Regions from separate parts of the Homo sapiens genome. Here region 1 is linked to region 2. Evidence: fine-mapped expression QTL. Tissue or cell type: unexposed skin. Region 2 holds a variant in brackets; the other region holds the start of a gene. All regions are shown on one strand. Distances are between the middles of the regions.

Region 1 (9,080 bases), 24 kb after region 2:
GGCAAAAGCCTCCTGCCAGTCTCTGTAGACCATTTCCCAACATCCTAGTCTGCCTCATCCATTACTCCTATGGATTATGCCTTCATTTGGCAAGTATTTATTATGCTCCTACTGTGTGATAGGCACTATTTTAAACCCTGGGGATACAGAAGTGAACAAAGACAAAAATCTACCCTCACTGACATGAAAGTCTAGAGGAGAAAGATGGGCCAATTACATGAATAAATAAAATACACACTGTATCAGAAAGTGATGAGTGGCATGAAGAGAAATAAAGCAGGGAAGGAGAAAGGATAGTCACAGAAGTGGGGTGAGGTTTTAGAATTTTAGATAGGGTGATTTGGGAAGGCATCTCTGAGGTGACTGAGTAAAAATCTCAAGGATGTGAAGAGCCCAGGGAATAACTTTGAAAAGAACATCTAGGGCAAGAGAACAGTCAGTGCAAAGGCCCTGATGCAAGGAAGAATCAGGCTGGCATGGCCAAGGGACGGACAGTTCACTGTGGCTGGTGTGGAGTGACTGAGATAGTGTGGTACAGATGAAGGCCAAGAGTAAATGTAGGGACATCAGACCTAGCTTTGTAGGATACTGGTTTTGACTTTGGTTAGGATGAGAAGCCACTGGAAGATTTTGAGCAAACACATGACATGATTCGATTTACATTTAAAATCTCCTTCTATTTGCTCCACTGATTCATGTACCTTAGCGGGACATAGGCAGAAACAAAGAGATCACTGAAAGGCTATGATCGTCCAGATGAGACGGTGGCCTGGACCATGGTGGAAACAGCAGGGCATGGAAACTGTCGGAGTCCAGATTTCCGTAGTGTGGATGAGGGTATAAGAGCAAGACAGGATCAAGGATGACTCCTTGATGACTCCAAGCAATCTGAAGGAAAGAGCTGAAATGCTTCTGCTCCAAGATAAACTCTTGAAAGGATGGTCTATATACCACTGGGGTGGAACATGTTCAGGGAAGGTAATCAGAGTTTCTTGTTGCACACATTAGTTTTGGGATGCCCATAAGATATCCAAGTGGGGTGGCACACACCTGTAGACCAGATACTCAGGAGGCTGAGGCATGAGAATCACTTGAAGATGGGCAGTGGAGGTTGCAGTAAGCCGAGATTGTGCCACTGCACTCCAGCCTGGGCGATAGAGCGAGACTCCTGTCTCACTAAAAAAAAAAAAAAAAATCCAACTGGAAATGTGAAGAAGGAGACAGTAGGGGACCAGGATGTGAGTTGCACACAGAGCTCTAGGCTGAGCCTCAGACAGATGGCATTTAAAGCCTTGAGAATGAACGGGAGAACCAAGGAGACAGTATAGCTGAAGAAGACAGGAGGTCTAAGAACTGAAGCAGGGCCTTTTCCACGGTGGAAATTTGGGAGGGAAGGAAGAGCCAGTAAAGGAGACAGAGGAGGAGCAGGCTATGAGTTAGGAGGAAAACCAGGAAGACCTAGTACCAAGAGCAACTGTGTGAAAGGATATATTAAGAAGGAGGATGTAAACAATTACATCAAATGTTGCTGAGAACTGATTGTGGCCTTTAGTCAAGGAGACCATTGGTAACCCTGACAAGAATATTTTTTGGTGTCACTTGAAAAAGCCTTACTAAAATATTCGAAACATAACAGAAGGATAGCAACGCAGACAACAAACATAGATAATTCTTTCAAGGAGTTCAGCTCTAAATGGGAGGAAAGACAAGGCAAGAAGGTGAAGAAGAGACAGGAAGCTAGGGCAGTGCAGAAATGGAGACAAAGGGAAAGAAAAGGAATCGAGAAGAATGCACAGGTGGAATAGGAGGATACAACTTTTGTTTTGTTTTGAGGTGGAGTCTTGCTCTGTTGCCCAGGCGACAGATTCTCCTGCCTCAGCCTCCTGAATAGCTGGGATTATTGGTGTGTGCCACCACGCCTGGCTAATTTTTGTATTTTTAGTAGAGATGGGGTTTCACCATGTTGGCCAGGCTGGTCTCGAACTCCTGACCTCAGGTGATCTGCCCGCTCTGGCCCCCCAAAGTGCTGATTACAGGTGTGAGCCACTGTGCCCGGCCAGGAGGACACAACTTCTAATGGGAAGTAAGTTTGGAAACAAGGATGCAAGGAAAACTCAGAGGTCCAGCTTATATCAAGTTATAAGGCTGTCAACACAGATCAGCAAGATCAGAAGAAATAGGAGGAGAAATGAGGCAGAGATAGGGAAAACTGGGATGCTGTTTCCAGATACTTTTCCCTCTCCTGCCTCTGACCAGGGCTGTTCTGACTGGTGGAAAAAAAAGATTTTTTTTTTAACAATGGGGGAAAACAATATGGGCTAGATATTAAATGATATTAATAAGTTATTAATTTTGTTGGGTATAACAAAATATAATTGTAACAATGTAACTGTATAACAATGAAATTGTGGTTATGTTAAAAAAAGAAGTCCTTATGTGTTAGAGATGCCTCCTGAAGTGTTCCCAGGTGAAATGATATAACTGGGATTTGCTGCCAAAACTCTAGCAGGGAAAAGAGTAAGTGAGAGTATTGGAAGACAGAAGAACAGAATGTTAACAACTTCACAGGACCTGACAAGCCCTGGGAATGAGCAGTCTGAACAAATACTGAAAGAAGGAATGTAGGGGAAGAATATAGGTGTAATGAATGAGAGCATCAGCTCTGAAAAATATTCCCTGTGAAAATGATCACTCTTAAAACAAGCCTAGTTTCCTGAAGGAACCAGCTGGGGCCCTGATCCCTGGATGGGACATTGTAGAACACAGACGTCAAAGCTGAGCAAAAGAAACCCACTCATGGTTCGAAATGCAAAAGGTAAGTGGCACCCACCTGAAGCTGGGCTGTCAGGAGCTCAGGAGTACCCCCTTTCCCCAGCAGGCAGTCCTCTCTGGGCAGACAGGAGCCACAGGGAGGCAGAACAAGAACAAAAAGCGTTCAAGAAAATCAAGGGAAATCCTCTCCAGCAGGGCAGTACCTCCTATTCCTTAACAGCATCAGGAATGAACCTGCCACAGAAGAAAAGGAGAAAAGAACTGCGGGCAGCTTCCTGGGAACACAGCTGGGGTACAGGTTGAAAGCACGACCTGCCCTGATATGCTGTTGACGCTGAGCATGAAGCGACCTTCTCTGTGCCTGTTATTAATGAAAGGTAATATTCACTGAACACTTAGTATACACCAGAGACTGTTACAGCCACTGTAGGAGTTTCACCTCATTCTATCCTTTCAACAACCCAATACGATAGATGCTATTATCCTCTTTAGGATAAAATCGAGGAAACTGAGGTACAGTGAAGTCAGCATCTTGCCCAAGGTGACACAGCTATAAAGTGACAGAGCCTAGAGGAAATGTGGCTGTGGAGACCGTGCTCTTACACAGTAAGGGCAGTGACGGTGAACTCTGGATTGCAAGGATTCTCTGTGTCCATTCTGAGATGAATCAAGATTGGTCATAAGGTTTTAAGTGTTGAATCTGGGTGATGGAGATCTGGTCTATAGAGTTCTATCTACTTCTGGCTGTTTGAAATTTCTCCGCAATAAAAACTTAAATGGAATGTAAAATCCCAAAGCCTGGCCACACCAGGGGCCTGGGAATCCGTAATTCTTGCGATCAATGACGGTCCCTGGGACCTTTGGAAAAAACCTGTCCTGTGCGTCCCAGCCAGACTTCCTCCTCCAACGCCCGAACCCGGGGGTGACCAACCAAAGTGAAACCCTAAGATCGCGGCAAAATGGCCACCCCAGATCCAGTCTAACCTTGGCTTGTTTGGTCAAGCCAGACCGCTCCTCATTCCACTCCAGCAAAGCCGAAGAATAGTGTGGCCCCAAGAGACTAGCCCTCAACCGACCAATGCCTCGGGGACACATGGCCCCAGGGATGGTTCCCATTCCACCACCTGGGAAATACCATTCCCCCAAAAAGCTTATTTATTCAACTCCCCCAAAACCGGGGACTTATGGCATCAGCGACTCCCTTTCCCAATACCCGACTTCAGCCAAAGCCGAACCTGTCCCCACCCACAAGAACCCTAGGAGAGAGAGCCCGATCCCCCACTCATCACCATCCAGTTTCACGGATGGGCTTCACCCAACTCCCCTGGAGATGCACGCCCACACCCCCAAAATAAGACATCTGGGAGAGGACGGCCTGCGCCACGCCAGCGCGTTCCCACCACAATCACCACCCCCGCGCCACCCGCACGGTCCCCAAATTCAGCCCATAGTCCAGCCTTTCGGGACCTTCCTTTTCGCGCAGAAAAGGGTACGGCTGCGGCAAGGGTCCCGCGGGAGCCTCACTCACCAGCGCCACCAAAGAACAAGGGGTCGCTCCAGCCACCAGCTGGGGAGCTCCTCCAGCGGGGCGCCAGGACTACACTACCCCGAATCCTCGGCACAGCGCCCGGACCACACCTCCCAGGATGCTCGGCGCCACCAGGCGCGCCCTGAAGGCCGGCAGCTCCCATTGGCCTCTGACGGATCCGTTTCTGAGTAACACGCTCCGGTCACCGGAGAATGGCCACTGTGGCACCTGAATTCTCCCTCTTTTTTCTTAACCACGTGCATAAAACACGTAGGAGCTCCCGAGAAGAGTGCCTGGCCCTACTGTGACCCTCCTTCTGAGCGCCTCTGTCTCGAAAACTACACTTCCCAGTGACCCCTGGAGCGACTTCCGCACCCGGTACCGGCCCCGCCCCTTGGCGCGCGGAAATGACGTTTCGGGGCGCATCTGTTCGGCTTCTGGGGTTGGCGGAGGTGTACCGCTGGCTGACCAAGCTTGTTCAGGTGCTGGTTTGTGTTGCAGCGGCCTGTGGTCTCCCTGGCTCCAGCCGCCTGCTTGGAAAGTCACGCCCCATATTCCTAAACACCGGGCGAACGTCATGTCGTATACCCTTTAGCTCCATTTAAAGCCTTGAAAAGGCCGAGCAGTCTGCCTGAAGTCTCACATCCCGTACGAGGTAGACCCGATTCTGAGCCCACGCCCTCAACCCGAATACACCTTTTCCGGTGCCCTGAGACCTTTTTCTTCTTTTTGAAATCCACGAAGTTATTGTTAAACTCTCATCTCCTGAGAAGCAGAAGCCTCAGTCTCGGGCCAGAGCTTGGCCTGCCGTCGGCTTGGATCTCTAGGTCTTTGTCCGGGATCCTGGTTGAGAACAAGATTGCGCTGGTGCCATCTGGGACGCCCCATCTGGGGAGCTCGAGGGGAAGGCCCACGTCACTCTTGAGAGGGCTTTTCCACCCGTGCACCCTCTCACTGCCCTTCACCTTCCTCAGATAGGCTTTCTGAAACTTTGTCATTCTCTTGGAAGACCAAGAAAATGACCACTGTCTGAAGGGCCAGGGAGATGAGAATTTCCTAAAATTCTTTTGTAGCTCTCAGAGGGTGAATCCATTCCCTTCTGGTACCCCGAGGCTACATTATTTATTGTGAATTCAGTTCAGTCCTGGCTCCGGAGACATGTCCAGTGTCAATTGGATTCATCCCTCAACATCATTCTCTGCCTCATGAGTCAGTCATCACCAAGAAATTAGTTGTTAATACACATAAAGGTTCAGAACAACAATGCAGGGATGCCTGTGTTCAAGTGTTCACTTGTGCTGGCTGTACAATAAAGACACAGATGGCTGACATCTCTTAAGCCTGGAAATGAAGACTTACAGGATGAGGTGCTGCCTGAGGAATTAGGCAAGATGAGGAGTTGGAAGAACACAGACGAGTAAGGAAGAGTGTAGGAAGTGTGAACAGAATCTCAGGGTCTGAGCCACTGGGTGGACTGTCATGACCACAGTGAGATTTTCAGCAGCACGTGGTCTTGCAGCCAGCTGACTTGCATATAGACAGGGATGCTAGATGTCCACCGTCTAGATGTACAGCTCTGTCATACAGATATTTGGTGTGTCCAGCCTCCAGTTTCATCTTTGACAGACCTCAGCATTTAATAATTAGGAGTTTCCATCTAGAAATCTGGATTGCCTGCTTTCTAAAACACTCTTTGCTGCCATGTCCTCTTTTTCTCCTGGCATTTCCCACCCACTCCATGCCATACCTCATCTGGAATACCCTTAGCTCCTCTGAATCCATCTGGTCCTTCAAGACCAAATACCTAGCTCTCTTTCGTGAAACCTTCCCTGATCACTATACTATAGTGACTACTTGAGACTCTTCTAACCCTGGCTGTACTTGGAAGCTTTTAAAAATACAATGCCTGAACACCACCCCAAGAAATGAGTTTGCAGTGGAGCCTGGGCATCCATTATTCATAACAGAGCTGTTTTCCTCTTGAGAAGGGAAGATGTTGTGTAATAATGTAGAAGAGAGATCTTGTTTTGGAAAATCAGAAGTTTAGTTATTGGTTGTTGCTATTTCTGAACCATATACCTCGGTAGATCATTTAACCCAGCGCTCTCAAAAACATGCATACATGTCACTTGGGATCTTGTAAGCAGCAAATTCTGAATCAGAATGCCTGATGGAGCCCAAGCATCAGCATTTCTAATAAGCTTCCAGATGATGCTGGTACTGCTTGTCTTCAGACCAGACTGGGTAACAAGGCTTTAAACCAATCAGGGGCTCAGATCTTTAAATTGAATATAAGCAGCTAGATTAAAGAATCTCCAAATTCCTAAATCTCAGAAAGACCATGATTCTATACTTATATTTTCTTTTAATATGTTATCTATTAAATGTAAAACACCTCAAGGTTAGGAATTGTGTTTTCATTTGTAAAGCCCATAATAGCCAGACTAGGATCACAGCAAGTGATGCTGGTTGGATAGTGAATAGGGTTAATGGTCTTGGAATCCAAGCTCCAGAGTTACAGTCAAAAGCAGGACCTAGATATTTTACCTATCTTCCCCAAGGCAGCCCTCTTGCTCCCTTGTTTTCAACATGGGCACACATGTCAACAGAGTGAGCGGAGCTGTGTTTGGCATAATGGTTTTTCATAATATTCAAGGTTGTGGCTGTGGATTTCATCTAAGAGGTATGAAGCCTGTGGAGTCCTGCTCAGAAGGACCTATACTGGGAGATGGTGCTGGAAAACTATAGCAATCTGGTCTCACTGGGTGATAATGGCTTCTCTTCCAGCTTAAAATCTGACCCACTGAGCAGCTTAAATCCCTCATGCAGGTAAGGCAGTGCATGGAGCAGCTGCCAGATATAGCTGACTTTTGCCTTTTGAACTTGAAAATAAAGACAGGTTATTCATATTTCCCCAGGGAAGGTCAGGTTTTTTTGTTTGTTTGTTTGTTTTGGTATAGTTGAGAATGGGTAGATAGGGGTGTGTGTGTGTGCACGCACACACACCGCTCTTGAGAATTTGCTTTGTCTTTGGTTTTCAGCAGTTTGACATTCATGTGTCTAAATCATTTGTTGTTGTTTGGTATTAATCCAGTTTGAGGTTTATTGAGATTCTCTAACCTGTCAGCTATTGTTTTTCATTAAATTTAGGAACTTTAGCCATCATTATCTTTAAATAATTCTCAGTTTCTTCTCATTTTGGATAATTCTTTCTCAATTTCTTCTCCTTTTGAGTCTCCACTTACACGTATGTTAGACCATTTGATATTGTTCCCGAAGCTCTATCCAATTTTCCTCAGTATGTTTTTCTGTTTGCCAGATTGGTTTCTATTGACCTGTCTTCAGGTTCACTGAAACTTCCTTTTGCCATCTTCAATCTTTTAAGCCCATCTAGCAAATTTTAAATTTTTATTTGTTACATTTTTAGTTCTAGAATTCCCACTTGTTTCTTTTTAAAATAATTTCCACTGAGATTTCCACCCCCATTTGTTTCTTTGTGATGTGTGTATTTTTCTTTAATATGTTTATGCTAGTTTCTGTAAAGTCTGTGTGCTGAAACCTCTGGACCATCTCAGGATCTATTTCTGTGACTGCCTTTTTTTCTTAACAGTGGGTCACACTTCCTGTTTTTTTGCATGTCTAGTAATTTTAAAGTTTTTTTATGCAGGACATTTTTTGTGGCATGATTCTAAATTCTCTTACGTTAGTCTGAAAGTGCTTTTTTTACCTGTAGGCAGTTTAATTACTGGATGAATGTTTTGAACTTGTGCAGGCTTCATTTTATTCTTTGTTAGGATAGATCTTTGAAAGGTCAAAGTGTTTACCAGGCTCCTCTAACTTGCAGGACTCAAACTCCAAGTTCTTTAACCCATGCAGATATTTTTACGTCCTTAATTTAGTTCCAGTTAGAGCATATCTTGAGAAGACCTTACTATAAGATGTGGTCCTTATTTTATGGCATGGCCTCTCTGGTTTCTCAGCTGAATGATTGAGGTGTTAATGAGGTTTGTTTATTCTGATTGGGCTGGAATGCCTACACTCGCCAGCCCTGCTAAACTTCTAGTATTTCCATTCTTCTCTCAAGCAGCTGTTTTCTGGTAATCATTGCATATTTACCCTGCACAAGCAAAGCTCAACTTCAGCTGAGGTGGGCTTTCCCCTCTTTGCACAGCTGCCTCCTTTCTGAGACCTACCCTACCAGTGTCATCTGCTTCACCATCCCTAAAGTCTTTTTTGCCTCCTCATCTCAGTGAGACTAGTGTGTCTTTCCCCCACCATCCCATATCATGGTCAGGAAATTGTCCCCAAGCAGTTAGCCAGGGCAAACGTAGAACTCATTTTCTGAATTTCCCATCTCTCAGGGATCACAATTTTGTGCAACCTATAGTCCAGGGCCTGAAAATAGTTGCTTTATACTTTCCCCAGTGTTATGGTTATTTATAATGGGAATGATCATCTGATACCAGTTATTCCATCATGGTCAGCAGAACACGTTAATTTGATAACTACTGTAAGTCACAAAATTTATATTTATTTCTCTGGCTATCCTAGATCTAGGACAAATCCTCACATAGGCAGCTAATTTGTTATAATCAATAAGACCATAGTTACATAAGGAACTTTAACTGGTTGTTGGGTTTGTAGCCCTTTCTCTGAAATGCTGGCGAGGTTCCTTTTATTAGAATATTGACAAAAAAATCAGCTGCAAGTTTAATAAGGTTCATCCATTTAAAAAGTCAATTTATGTTTCTGCTTAACTCACAGAAATATACCTCAAAGG
Region 2 (9,080 bases):
TAGTGTGGAGAAAGTAAACAGTCAAATGTCCTTTGACCACTTACAGAATGCATTTCTCTACTCCATTTCATCAAAGTGTCAACATTCTGACTCTTAGTCCTTGTCCCCATCTTTGCCTTCAGAGAGAGTATAAGGAATCCGAAGGTTGCCCTGCACACGGCTCAGGGTCGGGCTGCACTGGCAGTCTGTGGTGGACAGACGTGGTCTTCCTGTGTCTGCTGAGGTGAGACTTGAGGCTGAAGCCCCGCCCACACGTCTTGCACACATATGGCTTCTCCCCCGTATGTGTCATTTGATGTAAGGTGAGGTGTGACTTTTGGAGAAAGCCTTGGCCACACTCTCTGCACACACAAGGCTTCTCTTCCGAGTGAGCCCGCTTGTGTGTAATTAGAGCTGACTTATTGCCAAAGCCCAGTCCACACTGCCTGCACATGTAGGGCTTCTCCCTCGAGTGCTTCCGCTTGTGCCTGATGAGACCGGCCTGGTGGCTAAAGCCTCGCCCGCACTCTCGGCACACATACGGCCTCTCCCCTGAGTGCGTCCTCTGGTGTGCAACAAGGTTTGACTTCTGGCTGAAGCCTCGCCCGCACTCCCCACACACCATGGGCTTCTCGCCTGAGTGCGTCCTCTGGTGTCTGATGAGGTTGGATTGCTGGCTGAAGCCCCGGCCACAGTCCTTGCACACAATGGGCTTCTCTCCTGAGTGTATGTTCTGGTGTCTGTTGAGGTGTGACTTGAGACTAAAGCCTCGCCCACACACCCCACAAACATACGGCTTCTCCCCAGTGTGTGTCCGCCTGTGAGAGATGAGGGTTGAATTCTGGCTGAAGCTGTGCCCACACACCCCGCACACATAGGGCTTCTCCTTTGAGTGTGTCCTCTGGTGGTTGACAAGGGTGGTCCTCTGCCTGAAGCATCGCCCACACTCCTTGCAGGCGTAGGGCTTCTCCCCAGAGTGCGTCCTCTGGTGGGAGATGAGGTTTGACCTGTCGCTGAAGCCCAGGCCACAGTCACTGCACACGATGGTCTTCTCCTCCAAGTGTGTCCTCTGGTGTCTCACGACAGCTGACTTCTGGCTGAAGCCTTTGCCACATTCCCGGCACACGTAAGGCTTTTCCCCTGAGTGTGTCCTCTGGTGTATGATGAGGTTTGACTTCTGGCTGAAGCCTCGCCCACACTCACTGCACATGTAAGGTTTCTCACCGGAGTGTGTCCGTTCGTGTATGATTAGCGTTGACTTCCGGTTAAAGCCTCGTCCACACTCCCTGCACACAATTGGCTTCTCCCCCGAGTGTGCCTTCTGGTGTCTGGCGAGGCTCTTCTTTAGGCTGAAGCCCTTCTCACATACCCCACACACGTAGGGCTTCTCCCCTGAGTGTATCCGCTGGTGACTGAGCAGGTTTGTCATCTTGCTGAAGCTCAGTCCACACTCTCCACAGTTGACTGTTCCAAATCCTAAGACTTCTATCCTCTTCAACAATTTGTCTGTTTCCTCAGGGTTCCCTGACTGAGCTGGGCTGGCTTCTAACTCCACCCCTCTGAGGCCGTTCCGAGAGCTGACTGGCTGCCTCTGGGGTGGCCTGGAGAACGCTCCCAGAGTCCTTTTCTTGGTTCTTCCAAACAAAGGCATGGCACCTTCTCCCTCAGGACCTTCTGCTTGATCACTCCAGGGTCTCCCCTCAGAGGCTTGTTGCTGCTTCTCCTGGTCCCCTGGGCCCGGATCCCCAGGCTGGATGTTACCTTCTGCACACAAGCATGTGAAGATCCAGGGGGGATGATTACACAGCACATGCTGCATGGGGAATTTCTGACTGGAGAAACCCGGAGGGCAGAAAGGATCGAGGTAGAGCTCTGGCTCTGGATCTGCTGCAGAGAGAAAAGTGTGAGTCACAACTGAGTCCTCAGTGGGCAGCCTGAGCAATCAGCTTAGTCAGATCCCCTAGGCTTCAAAACACTTAGGCCTTAAGTGCCATCCAACCGGGACTTCCTTTACATGGCCTACTCTCCAGCCTACTGCTACTTATTACGTCTAGCATTACAATCTAGAAAACCCACTTGTTAAGACCTGCTCTACATATAAGACTACACAAGCATCCCTGGCATTTTTGGGTGTGTAAATAGGGCCAGTATGGAACAGTTCCCCCTCACCTTCAATACAATTAATTACCTTCTAACTCACAACCATGCACACTGAGATAAATCATGTCCACAAGTACTTTCTTCTTTGATGGAAAGATGTCTAACCCTAGGACTCATGTGGAAATGTCCTTCCTTATTTCCCTATGAGGACAAGGGGATGGATTGAGAAAGCAGTTATTTAGAGTGAACAGAGAAGCCCTGGTGTAGGGAGGAGCATGAGAGGGTAGTGAAACAGTATGTGACACACCCGAGCTGCTGTCTCCCCACTCAACAAAGATTTGTTAGATTACTCTATGCCAGAATTTCTAGGAGGCAGTAGGCTTTCAGCAGTGGACAACACAGAGCCCAGGTCCCCAATGACTTTAAAGGATGCTCCCTCCTGGTACCCCCAACCTATTTCCATAATTAGTGTAAATAAAATTTTCCCCAAAAATCAGTGTAAAAGAAGAAATTTCTACTTATAGTGCCTCTTGTGTAGGAGATGTCAACATTGAGTATATTGTTTTATCACAACTGGGTCTAGTCAGCTGAAGGCAATCAATGACCAGGCAATATGAGTAACGAGGTAGAGATCTCGATGGATCTACCCGAATGCTCTTTTCTTGACCAATGAAAAATCAAGCTTATTAAAAGTGTACACATCCACATTCCAGAATTATTCCATGCTACGCGAAATGCTACTTTTCAATCCTAATTACAATGAGCAGAACCACCTTTTCTTACCACTTAAAAATTCCTGACTCTTCCTACTCAGCAAACTGCCCAAGTGAATGTCTTCCCTTCTGTGTTTCACTGCCTGGCCAGTAAATAAGCTCAACTTTTCTCCTTTCAGTAGCTCTGGTGGCCTTTACCTCAGGCTTTGATGACAGACAGAGGAACCAACAATCTAACCTGATGCCTGCCTCTCCCCACGCCAGTGCTGAGGAGCTCCTGCAGAGAAAGCCTGCTCTTCCAGCCCTTGTATTCAGGACAGGTGCCGGGTGGTCCCTCAAGACCCTTTTTCAGCAGTAAATCCTACCTGCTTTCACTGAGTTCTCACTAAGTTTATTTGGTTTAATCTAGGTTGTCTGAGGTTCCACAACTCATAACTGATTTTGTGTTCTATTTCTGGCCAGCAACTTCCTTGACATTATGGAAACTTGAGTTGGGTGGAGTTGTCAGATTTGATTTATTGGCTATTTTGTTTCTCTTGAATACGACAGGAGAAGGGAAGCAACAGCTCATATCTCCTTGGCTTACCTTCATACATATTAGGGCATAGTCATGGGTAAGTAGGTCTTTCAGCAGTAAAAGGAACTCCTGTGTCTGTCCTGAGTTAAGCACAGTGACTATAATTTTGACACAGGTAATACCTCCCACCCACCCTTATAAGAACCAAGGCTTCTGATATGTAGGCTTATTACAGCCCTAGCTGCTGTGCCTATGTGTAAAGTGGCAGGCTTTTATTTACACTAAATGTATTTCAGAATTATAGAAGCGCCTTCAGAGAAATCTTAATTCAACATGGTTTTAACATTTGTATGGAGTGACAGAAGAAAAACAAAACTTTAATTCTCCATTAGTCAGTTTTTTCAGTTGGTCACCAAATTTGGCATTCTGTGTATACACTAGGAATATTTAGTCTTAGAAGAAATTTTAACACAAAATATTACCAGGTTAATGAATTTATTTATAAAATATTTTAAATCTAAGGTGCTCCTGCACTGATAGGTTTATAGAGACTAATGGGCACTGACACAAATTTAAAATTTAAAAACTCGAGAATAACTAAATTAAAAAAAAAAAATCAGGCCAGGTGTAGCGGCTCACGCCTGTACCAGCACTTTGGGAGGCTGAGTCGAGTGGATCACTTGAGGTCAGGAATTTGAGACCAGCCTGGCCAACATGGTGAAACCCTGTCTCTTCTAAAAATATAAAAATTAGCTGGTTGTGGTGGTGTGCACCTATAATTTCAGCTACCCAGGACGCTGAGGCAGGTGCTTGAACCTGCGTGGCGGAGGTTGCAGTGAGCCGAGATTGCGCCACTGCATTCCTGCCTGGGCAACAGAGCAAGATTCTGTCTCAAAAAAATAAAAAATAAATAAAATTGAAAATTGAACTCCTAATGATTCAAATATGCCAGTTTCTGAAGGAAATCTTTCTTGCTGCAGCTGAAGCTCTGGCTCTGAAGAAAAAAGTTTAGCTGTGAATTAAGCCAGGCACCTTGCTTATTAGGTTGCACGATAAGAAAGAAATGTGAGGCACTCAGAGCTTATTTACTACAATATGTAAACAACCTTACTAGCTGGTATGTAACTAAAGGGTGGAATCAATATTTCAAAGTAAGATAAAGCCTGCAAATAAGACAAATGCAATGTCTTTTCCCTTATTTTATCAGTGTAAACATAACATTAGCATAATATTCTAGTGATATAAAACTTGGTTCTGATATGTAGGCTTTCTCAAAGAAAGTTTAACTAATCTAAACTTCCAAGACTAATATATAGGTTCAGCATCCCTAATCTGCAAAGTTCCAAAATCTGAAAATCTTTAAGCACCAACATGCAGCCACAAGTAGAAAATTCCACAGCTGATCTCATGTGACAGGTC[A/G]TAGTCAAAACACAGGCACATAAAATTCAGTTTATTCAGCATCCTCAAAGGAAAAATATAATTACCTTCAGGCCAAGTGTACAAGGTGTACACAAAACATAAATGAAATTCCTGTTTAGACTAGGGTCCTATACCCAAGATATCTCATTATGTTTATGGTAATATTCCAAAATGCAAACCAACCAACCAACCAACCAAACAAACCCAAAATCTGAAACACTTATGGTCCTAAGCATTTTGGATAAGGGAGAGTCAACCTATACTGATTTTAAAAATCAGATAGGCTAATATTGCCTTCATAAATATGTAAGATTAGGCACATGTAGATATATGTGTCCAACTAGTATCTTATAATTTACAGACAGTGCCAGAAATTACGTGAATCTACAATTACTTTACTCAAAGTAAATACCAGAAATGGCATATTTTTCAGGCAGTTTTTAACTTAAGACTGATTAAGTTGTTTTTCAATTTCTAAGATCTCTGTTAGGAAATCATTATAAGAATAAATATTTTTGTTAAAAAATTCAAAAACAAAACTATACAAAGTGTTCTCATGCAATAATTTTACTTGTATTTTTGCCTAAACTAATGAGATCAGCCTTATGTTAATTATTTGAGACTGAAACTTAAAACTTTAAATACCGTCCATCAACACTATATATGCTTAAAAACATGTACAATTATTTAGCTTGCCAATAAACAGAAAAAAGCTTAAACTTGACAATAATACTGGTAACTAAAAAAGAATTATAACTTGGTGTATTTCTGTCCTCCATATGAAAAATAACTAATTTTTGTCTTTTGTATACTCAACTTAGAAATAAAAGCTCTATTTTTACCTCACCAGATATCCAATTTCTCATTCTTTATTTTTTAAATTTCTTACAGATAGGATCTCACTCTGTGGCCCAGGCTGAAGTGCAGTGGTACAATCATAGATCACGTAGCCCAAATTCCTGGGCTCGAGCAATCCTCCCTCCTCAGCTTCCTAAGTAGCTGGGACTACAGGCACACAACACCTCACCCTGGCTAATTATAAAAATTTTTTTAGAGACAGAGTCTCGCTATGTTGCCCAGGCTGGTCTTGAACTCCTGGCCTCAAGTGATCCTCCTGCCTTGGTCTCAGCCTCCTGAGTAGCTAGGAATACAGGTGCAAGCCACAGCACCTGGCTTTAGTTCTCATTCTTAGGCTTCTGTGTTACCTCTTACCAGGCTTCTTAGTCAATATAAATAACAAGGATTAGTCACTTCAGGAGGGCATATAATTCTTCATAATTATGGTAACTCCTGTTACTTTTAAAAAACTAATTAATTTTTAAATTGACAAAAAATGTATATATTCATTGTGTACATTTTGAAATATATATACATTGTGACATGGCTAAATTGAGCTAATTAACATATTGCATCACCTCACATACCTATCATTTTTTGTGATGAGAACACCCAAAATCTACTCTTAGTGATTTTCAAGAATACAATATATTGTTATTAACTGTAGTCATCATGTTATACAATAGATCTCTTGAACTTATTCTTTCTATGTGAAAATCCTTTGACCAACATCTTCCCCAACCACCCCCATCCCCTAGTAACCACCATTGTATTCTCTTTCTCTATGAGTCCAACCTTTTTAGACTGCACATATAAGTAAGATTGTGTGGTATTTGTCTTTCTGTGACTGGCTCATTTCACTTAACATAACATCCTCCAGGTTCATCCATGTTGTTGCAAATGATTCCGTTACATTTATTGAATTAGCATTCTGATTAATGAAACAGCCGAGAAAATTAAATACTTTTCTTGTAACTAGCCTATTTTGAGGATTCTGATATTGCCTGTCTTAAATCCAAGTCCCAAATATAGAATAATGAAACCGTTAAGATGTATTTTATACCTAGAACAGTCTTCCTCCCGTTACACATATATTTTGGGTTTCCAAGACAGCTTCCTGGGCAACCACAATGACTTGCTCCTTGGATTGTACAGCATTCTTTTTAATGTGCTCAACATCATTGTAAGAGCTGCTGTTTTTCTTTAAATTAAAACAAGGATTAAAAACGAGACAAAAAAGATAGGTTTCGCTTTAAGACAATGATAGGTAAGCTGCTTGTTATTAATATAAATGTTTTGATAATTCTATACTTTTCAGGTTGAGAAAACACATATTTGTGTAAATGTACAAAGGTCAGGGTGTATAGCATTTTCCCAGCCTCCACCTGCCAATTCTAGAATGAACACACAGGTCAGATAATGCCCCTACATCCTCTCCTTCTCTGTCCAACATTCCTTCCATGTCCTTGGCTAGACACCTCTCTTGTTCCTTGAGAGGAAGATTTTTGTAAGATTCCCTCAAGTAGATAGACAGCTTCTTCCTTTCATATCTCAAGCATTACACAGTGGGATGAATGTCCTTGTTTTGTAATGTGGCTTCCACACCATTACCTACCATACTTTTTTTAGGACCATCCACAGGTCTCCTGGTTTCACACACTGCCCTGAATATTTGATCACCTACCAGCCTCACATCCTCTCCACACCAATACCTGTCAGCACTCTCAGGGTGCTCCACAGGGCTGAGCCTCTGGCTAAGACTCCAACTTCTCAGCAACACTGACCTCACCTGCACTGTGAATGCTGTTCACAGACACTGCACAATCTTCACATTCTCTCCTGTGCACATTCCCTTCTCTGACACAGCCTTTTCTTCTACCTTCTGACTCACTTTGCTCAAGCACCATGGGCACATTGGTTCCTGACCTTATTTGGGGCTCCAATCCATGACCTTTCAGCTTATACACCAGTCCCTCATCTTTACTCCTTCATACAACTGAGATCCAATGGACTTACATATCCAACTGACCTTTTATGGAACTATATATTCGGCGGAGAGTCTATGAAATCACTATGGTGCTCTCACAAGGATGCTGTTATGGACTGAGTTGTGTTTCCCCCAAATTCTTATGTTGAAGCTGTAATCCCTAATGTGACTGTATTTGGAGACAGGGCCTTTAAAGAGGTAATTAAGGTTAAATAAGGTCGTAAGGGTGGGCCCTAATCCAATGGGGCTGGTGTCCTTTTAAGAAGAGGAAGAGACGACAAAGATGTGTGAGCATTGAGAAAGGGCCATGTGAAGACACAGGGGGAAGGTGGCCATCTGTAAGTTCAGGAGTGAGGACTCAGAGCAACCAAACCTGCTGACAACTTGATCTTGAACTTCTGGCTTCCAGAACTATAACTAAATGAATTTCTGTTGTTTAAGCCAGCTAGTCCACAGTATTTTGTCATGGCGGCCCAAGGTGACTAATACAGATGCTTTACTTCCTTTGCCCTGACCTTCCTTCTTTCCTATTGCTGTAGTAAAACACCTACTCATCTGCCTCAGTCAACCCCTGAGCAAGTCTCATGAAATTTATCTGTTATTAAGTAAAGTCACTATTAAAAGTTAACACCACTTGGTTTGACAGCAAATGCAACACCAGCTACATGCTGCTGCTTAAAAGCAAAACACCCAAATGACAATGTTTTTATTTTAAAATAAAAGGATGAACAATAAAATACCAAAAAGATGCACCAGAAAGTACAGTGCTAAGACTAAAAAGAAATAAAGAGGAAGTTAAAGGAAACAATAGCTCATGGAACTAAGAGAATTTCAGCATTAAAAACTTCATTAATGAGTAAGATAAAAATATCCTGAACCTTTCTATACCTAATAGAACAATAAAGTGAAATATAACACAAAAACTTAGAAATAAATGGAGAAGTTGATATAAATTACGACTGTGGAGAGCTTTAGGATTCCTTCTAACAGATGAACAGTAAGGATACAAGCAAGTTGAAAAACAGCGACAATTTATATTATGTATGCTATGGTCCCTCAATTTGAAGACAGAATTAATCAATTTAATAAAAACAAGAGGAGAAAATTTCTTACCCAGAAAAAGAAAATATATACTTCTGTGCAAACATTTATAAAACTGTCAAAAGAATTTTAAAAATTAAAGCACATATATAATTTCTTAAAGTTATCTATGTGTCTGTCATTTAAAAATAATGCAAAGTAGGATGAAAAATTCTCAGCAGCCCCTTGTCCAACCCTCCCCAATTCTATCCCCACAGAGGTAACCACTAGTAATGGTAAATAACAACAGACTTCTATGTTCACATAAACATATGGATATATACTCTTTCATACACTTCTCTTTGTTTAACAACAAACTCAACTGCATAGTATACAAAATCCTATAACTTTTTCACTTAATAAGTTATCCACTTAGTGTCTGATTTAAAGAAGATAAAGTAAAATTTAATTATAATTAGTGAACAGATAGGAAATCTCACCACAAAGA

Alleles and levels. Positions count from the first base shown, and alleles are read on the strand shown. Sizes are in standard deviations (SD) of each study's normalised expression.
For the expression in unexposed skin of the gene that starts at base 4,378 in region 1, allele G in region 2 goes with a higher level than allele A (moderate effect, 0.48 SD a copy in GTEx).

What was found.
Region 1: it holds the start of ZNF133, and the variant in region 2 is fine-mapped to the expression of ZNF133 in unexposed skin (GTEx, PIP above 0.99).

Annotation. Positions count from the first base shown.
Region 1 is chr20:18,283,825-18,292,904 of GRCh38, reverse strand. It overlaps ZNF133 (zinc finger protein 133), which reads right to left and starts at 4,378. Exons shown (of 7, transcript NM_001352452.2): 1 at 4,301-4,378. RefSeq lists enhancers at 3,646-3,765, 4,326-4,665, 3,771-4,676, 4,756-4,805.
Region 2 is chr20:18,307,855-18,316,934 of GRCh38, reverse strand. ZNF133 (zinc finger protein 133) reads right to left here. Exons shown (of 7, transcript NM_001352452.2): 7 at 1-1,866. The coding sequence ends at 119. It overlaps ZNF133-AS1 (ZNF133 antisense RNA 1), which reads left to right. Exons shown (of 9, transcript NR_187570.1): 7 at 123-223; 8 at 936-1,105; 9 at 2,972-5,574. Among named protein-coding and RNA genes, the nearest start is that of ZNF133, 24 kb to the right of the region's middle. The variant A/G (reference allele first, on the strand shown) is at 4,729.